Linked DNA regions of Homo sapiens: region 1 is linked to region 2. The links come from fine-mapping of genetic effects on gene expression. Tissue or cell type: lung. Region 2 holds a variant in brackets; the other region holds the start of a gene. All regions are shown on one strand. Distances are from middle to middle.

Evidence for each region. PIP is the estimated chance that this variant, and not a neighbour inherited with it, causes the effect.
Region 1: it holds the start of SYT3, and the variant in region 2 is fine-mapped to the expression of SYT3 in lung (GTEx, PIP above 0.99).

What each region holds. Positions count from the first base shown.
Region 1 is chr19:50,638,210-50,640,890 of GRCh38, forward strand. SYT3 (synaptotagmin 3) reads right to left here and starts at 1,672. Exons shown (of 11, transcript NM_001160329.2): 1 at 1,581-1,672; 2 at 816-953. RefSeq lists an enhancer at 983-1,277.
Region 2 is chr19:50,610,771-50,613,451 of GRCh38, forward strand. No RefSeq gene overlaps it. Among named protein-coding and RNA genes, the nearest start is that of SNAR-F, 7.1 kb to the left of the region's middle. The variant G/C (reference allele first, on the strand shown) is at 1,148.

The DNA of each region.
Region 1 (2,681 bases), 27 kb after region 2:
GGGGGGCAGTGGCGCCAGGATGGGAAAAGCATTTTAAAGAAAAGCATTTTAGACAGTAGGAGCAGGATGACAGGGGCTTAGGGTAGGAAAGCAGTTGGAGGGTCCAGGGACCAAGGAGGCCAGACTGGGGTAGACGCGGGGAGGGCCAGGAGAGAAGGATGGATGTGGGTAGAGAGATTGGAGGTGGATAGGTATGGTGGGAGCTGGGGGTGGAGAGGTGGAGATGCAGAGATGGGGACCAAGTTGAGGGAGGGAGAGATACAGGGAGGGGAGACAGAGATAATGTGAAGGGCAGACTGAGGCTCCGAAGAGATGGAGAGGTGAACAGGCAGGCAGAAGGAAAGTCAAGGATTGAGACTTGGGATGGACAGTGACAAGGAATGAACCGAGATGTAATTAATTCACGGGGGCTTGAGAGACGAGAGGACGAGAGACGGTGAAGAGGGGCAGGCAGGAGTGTGGGCAGAAATATCTTTGAAAGAGAAACGGTCGAACGGGAGGATGGATGGGTGGGCAAGGACAGCAGATGATGGCTAGAGATCGCAGATAGACAAAAGGAGACAGGAGGGCTGGGCAGACAGACATGGGTTCATAAGGGAAGGTTCAATGAGCACATAAATGAGAGGAGGCTAGGAAGGAGAGGTGGATGTGGGGAGAGGGGGAATTAGTGACACATGGCTCGGAGCCAGGCATCAAGATGGGTTGAAGGGGATGCAGGGGAATTAGGAACAGACAGACCAGGGCTCACAGATGGACAGGTGTCGTGGGGGTGCTGCAGAAGGCCAGGACTCCAAGACAGGCATGGCCACACTCACCTGCGCTTATCTCTGCCGTGTCCTGGGTGGCAGCCGAGGCGGCGGCGGGCGGCAGCCCATGGGGGTTCTAGGGCGGACAAGGGGCTGTGGACCCGTTCCCACGCGCCGGGTAATGAGAGAGAATGTCTGATCTAGGGGCTGAGGCCGGGAGAAAAAGCTCAGCTTAACAGTCACATCTTGCCCTACTCGAGCCAGCTGCCCGACCCCAGGCGACCCACTGGGAGCCCGGCCACCCCCTCCCACCTCCGGGCCCCCAGCTCCCGTTGAGGGCTTAGAGACTACAATTCCCGGCAGGTCTCGCGCTCGCGCTGCTGCGGCTTCATAGACCCGGCGCTGCAGGATCTGCTGGGAGTTGAAGTCCTTAATGCCTCCGGGCTGCAGAGAGGATGGGATTTTTTTTTTTTTTTTAAGGTTTTGGGGGGTTAAGATGCTGGGGTCCCAAGACGCTTCAGGGGAGGGGAACGATGTCCGGGACTTCGAAAAGCCACGGAGCCCTAAGTCCTTAGGGGCCACGGAATGAGGAAACGATCCCCCCGCGCTGGGGATCGGTGGGCGAGGGGTGGGATACACCCAGGTGTTTCGGGACCCCCTTCCAGGGCCACGTGCCCCTCCCCCGGGGTGGCCAGAGAGCGCTGCAGCGCTCCCACTCCCCGGCCCGAGATCCACGCGCCTCTGCATCTACCCCGCCCCCATGCGCCGGGGCCGACCCCAGGGATTTGACTGGGGCTGGGGCTGTGGCAGGAGGAGGGGGAGGAGCGGACTCACCCGGAGCCGCCGCTGCCGCCGCTGCCGCCGCCGCCGCCGCCGCAGCCCCGCGCGCCAGCCGCGGTGCCGGCTCGGCTCCTCCCCTCGCCACTGTCGCAGGTCCGCGGCTCCTCCCCCTGCACCCCCTCCTTCCCCCACTCCGAACCCGCGGCAAGAAAGCCGAAATCACTTGGCCTCAGCAAGGAAGCAGGGAGATTGCCCGGGACTAAGGCAGCAGAGACCCAGTGGGTTTCCACACTGGGGACCCAGAGATCTAGGATCACGACGTGCTGCTTCTCCAGGGTCCGGGGGCCCAGTTCTCCGCCCCGCTATCTCACAGAGGTAGAAGTCCGGGGACCCCAGGCCCCTCTTCCCAGGAACCCAGGACTTCAGGCCCTCCAACCTGAGCCGCTCTGAAGGCCGGTGGTAGGAGCGGAAGCTGAGACTCAAAGGTACAGTGCCACAGCCAGGATAGAGGTACTAGCAGGGACCTGGGTTTGAATCCCACCTGGGCCAACTCCTGCCTGTGTGCGCCTCTTGCTCTGAGGCCCCGTTTCCTCATCAGCAAAATACACACCATAAACTTATTTCCTAAGGGATCCACAGTTTGAAAAACCGGTCAGTGTAGACAAAACATTGGTACCAACTAGGTACTTAATGAATATTTCTCAAAAGTAGTGAGTAACAGTTTCTGGTATATTAATAGCAGTTAATGGCAATTGTCATTTCCTATAAGTGGTGAAGTGCTAAGTGCTTTGAAAGCGTTTTCTCATTTAATTTTCACTTGGGTGCAATTATGACATTCCCATTTCACAGAGGAGACAACTGAGGCCCATGGAGGTTAAATCCCTTGGGTAAGGTCTAGATCAGGGGTGTCCAATCTTTTGGCTTCCCTGGACTGCATTGTTGTCTTGGGCTACACATAAAATACACTAACAGTAACAATAGCTGATGAGAAAAAAAAAATCACAAAAAAATCTCATAATGTTTTAAGAAAGTTTACAAATTTGTGTTGTGCCGCATTCAAAGCTGTCCTGTGCTGCATGCGGGCCTCAGGCCATGGGTTGGACAAGCTTGATCTAGATCTACATAGCCTGGAGAGGTGGCTCGGAGGCCCCCTCA
Region 2 (2,681 bases):
CTGAAGGACATCTTGTTTGCTTCCAAGTTTTGACAATTATGTACAGAGCCGCTATGAATATTTGTCTTCAGGTTTTTGTGTGGATGTAAGTTTTGAGCTCATTTGAGTAAATACCAAGGAACATGAGTGCTGCAATATATGGTAAGAGTGTTTAGTTTTGTAAGGAAGTGCCAAATTGTCTTCTAAAGTGGCTGCACCATTTTGCATTACTGCCAGAGATGAATAAGAGTTCCTGACGTTCCTCATCCTCATCAGCACTTGGTGTTATTCATGTTTTGGATTTTCACCATTCTAATAGGTGGTTGTCGTATGTCATCGTTGCTGTAATTTGCAATTTCCTAATGACATTTGATGTTGAGCCCCGCTTTTTTTTGGAGACGGAGTCTTGCTCTGTCGCCGAGGCTGAAGTGCAATGGCATGATCTCGGCTCACTGCAACTTCTGCCTCCCAGGTTCAAGTGATTCTCCTGTCTCAGCCTCCCAAGTAGCTGGGATTACAGGCATGCGCCACTACGCCTGGCTAATTTTGTATTTTTAGTAGACATGGGGTTTCTCCATGTCGATCAGGCTGGTCTCGAATGCCTCGCCTCAGGTGATCTGCCCACCTTGGCCTCCCAAAGTGCTGGGATTACAGGTGTGAGCCACCACGCCCGGCCCAAGTACCTTTTATTTATTTGTTTGTTTGTTTATTTATTTATTTTAAGAAACAGGGTCTCTGTTGCCCAGGCTGGAGTACAGCAGTGCAATCATAGCTCACTGCCGCCTCCAACTCTTAGATCCTCCTTCTCAGCCTCCCCAGTAGCTGGGACTACAGTTGTGTGCTGTCACACCTGGCTATTTTTTTATTTCTATTTTTATTATTTTATTTATTTATTTATTTAGAAACAGGGTCTCGCTCTGTCATCCAGGCTGGAATGCAGTGGCACTGGAATCTCTGCTGACTGCAACCTCTGCCTCCTAGACTCAAGTGATCCTCCGACCTCACCTTTCCAAGTAGCTGAGACCACAGGTGTGCAACACCACACCTGGCTAGTTTTTTGTATTTTTCGTAGAGATGGGGTTTCACCACGTTGCCTGGCTGGTCTTGACCTCCTGAGCTCAAGGGAATTACCAGCTGTGGCCTCCCAAAGTGCTGGGATTGCAGGTGT[G/C]AGCCACCACATCTGACCTTTTTATTTTTATTTTTTGTAGAGATGGCGTCTCAGTGTGTTGCCTAGGTTGGTCTGAAACTCTTGGCCTCAAATGATCCTCCTGCCCCAGCCTCCCAAAGTGTTGGGATTATAAGCGGGAGCCACCACACCTGGCCAACTATCTTTTTATTTACTTATTTGCCATCTGCATATCTTCTTTGTTGAAGTGTCTGTTCAGATCTGTTCCCTATTTTTAAATTGGGTTGTTTGTTTTCCTATTGTTGAGTTTTAGTTCTTTGTATACCAGCTTTCTTTTTTCTTTTTCTTTCTTTCTTTTTTTTTTTTTCAGACAAAGTCTTGCTCTGTTGCCCAGGCTGGAGTGCAATGGCGCAATCTCAGCTCACTGCCACCTCCGCCTCCCAGGTTCAAGTGATTCTCTTGCTTCAGACTCCCGAGTAGCTGGGATTACAGGCGCCCACCACCATGACTGGCTAATTTTTGTATTTTTAGTAGAGACAGCATTTTGCCACGTTGGCCAGGCTGGTCTCAAACTCCTGACCTCAGGTGATCCGCCCACCTCGGCCTCTCAAAATGCTGGGATTACAGATGTGAGCCACCACACCTGGCCTGGATACCAGCTTTTTGTCTGAAAGGTGTTTTGAAAAGATTTTCTCACAATCTATAGCTTCTCTTTTTGTTCTCTTAAACATCTGATTTTCCTATCACTCCTCCCCATGCAAAATATACATTTTTTAACTGGATCTTGCCAGGGATTTCAGAGTGAGAACAAGAGTCAGACCTGGCCAATCTGAGTGCTTCATGACCTTGGTTATGATGTGCAGTAGTTTGGATGTATGTCCCATCCAATTTTTTTTTTTTTTTTTTTTGAGACAGAGTTTTGCTTTGTCACCCAGGCTGGAGTGCAGTTGCACAATCTTGGCTCAGTGCAACCTCCACCTCCTGGGTTCAAGTGACCCTTCTGCCTCCGCCTCCTGAGTAGCTGGGATTACAGGCACATGCCACGCCCGGCTAATTTTTGTATTTTTAGGAGAGACGGGGTTTTCCCGTGTTGGCCAGGCTGCCTTCTAAATTTCGTTGTTGAAATTTGATCCCCAATGTTGGAGATGGGGTCCTAATGAGAGGTGTTTGGGTCACAGGGGTGGACCCCTCACAAATAGATTAATGCCCTCCCTGGGAGTGTGGGTGAGTGAGTTCTTCCTCCATTAGTTCCCATTAGAGTTGGTTGTTAAAGAGAGGCTGACACTTGCCTCTCTTGCTTCCTCTATTGTCACGTGATCCCTGCTTTCTTTCTCCTTCCACCAAGAGTAGAAGCAGCTCAAGACTTTCTCTGTATGCCCAATCTTCCAGCCAGAAGAATCATAAGCCAAATACACCTTTTTCTCTTTATAAATTACCCAGCCTCGTGGATCACTTTAGGTCAGGCGTTCGAGACCAGCCTGGCTAACACGGTGAAACCCTGTCTCTACTAAAAATACAAAAAATTAGCCAGGTGTGGTGGCGGGCACCTGTCATACCAGCTACACTGGAGGCAGGA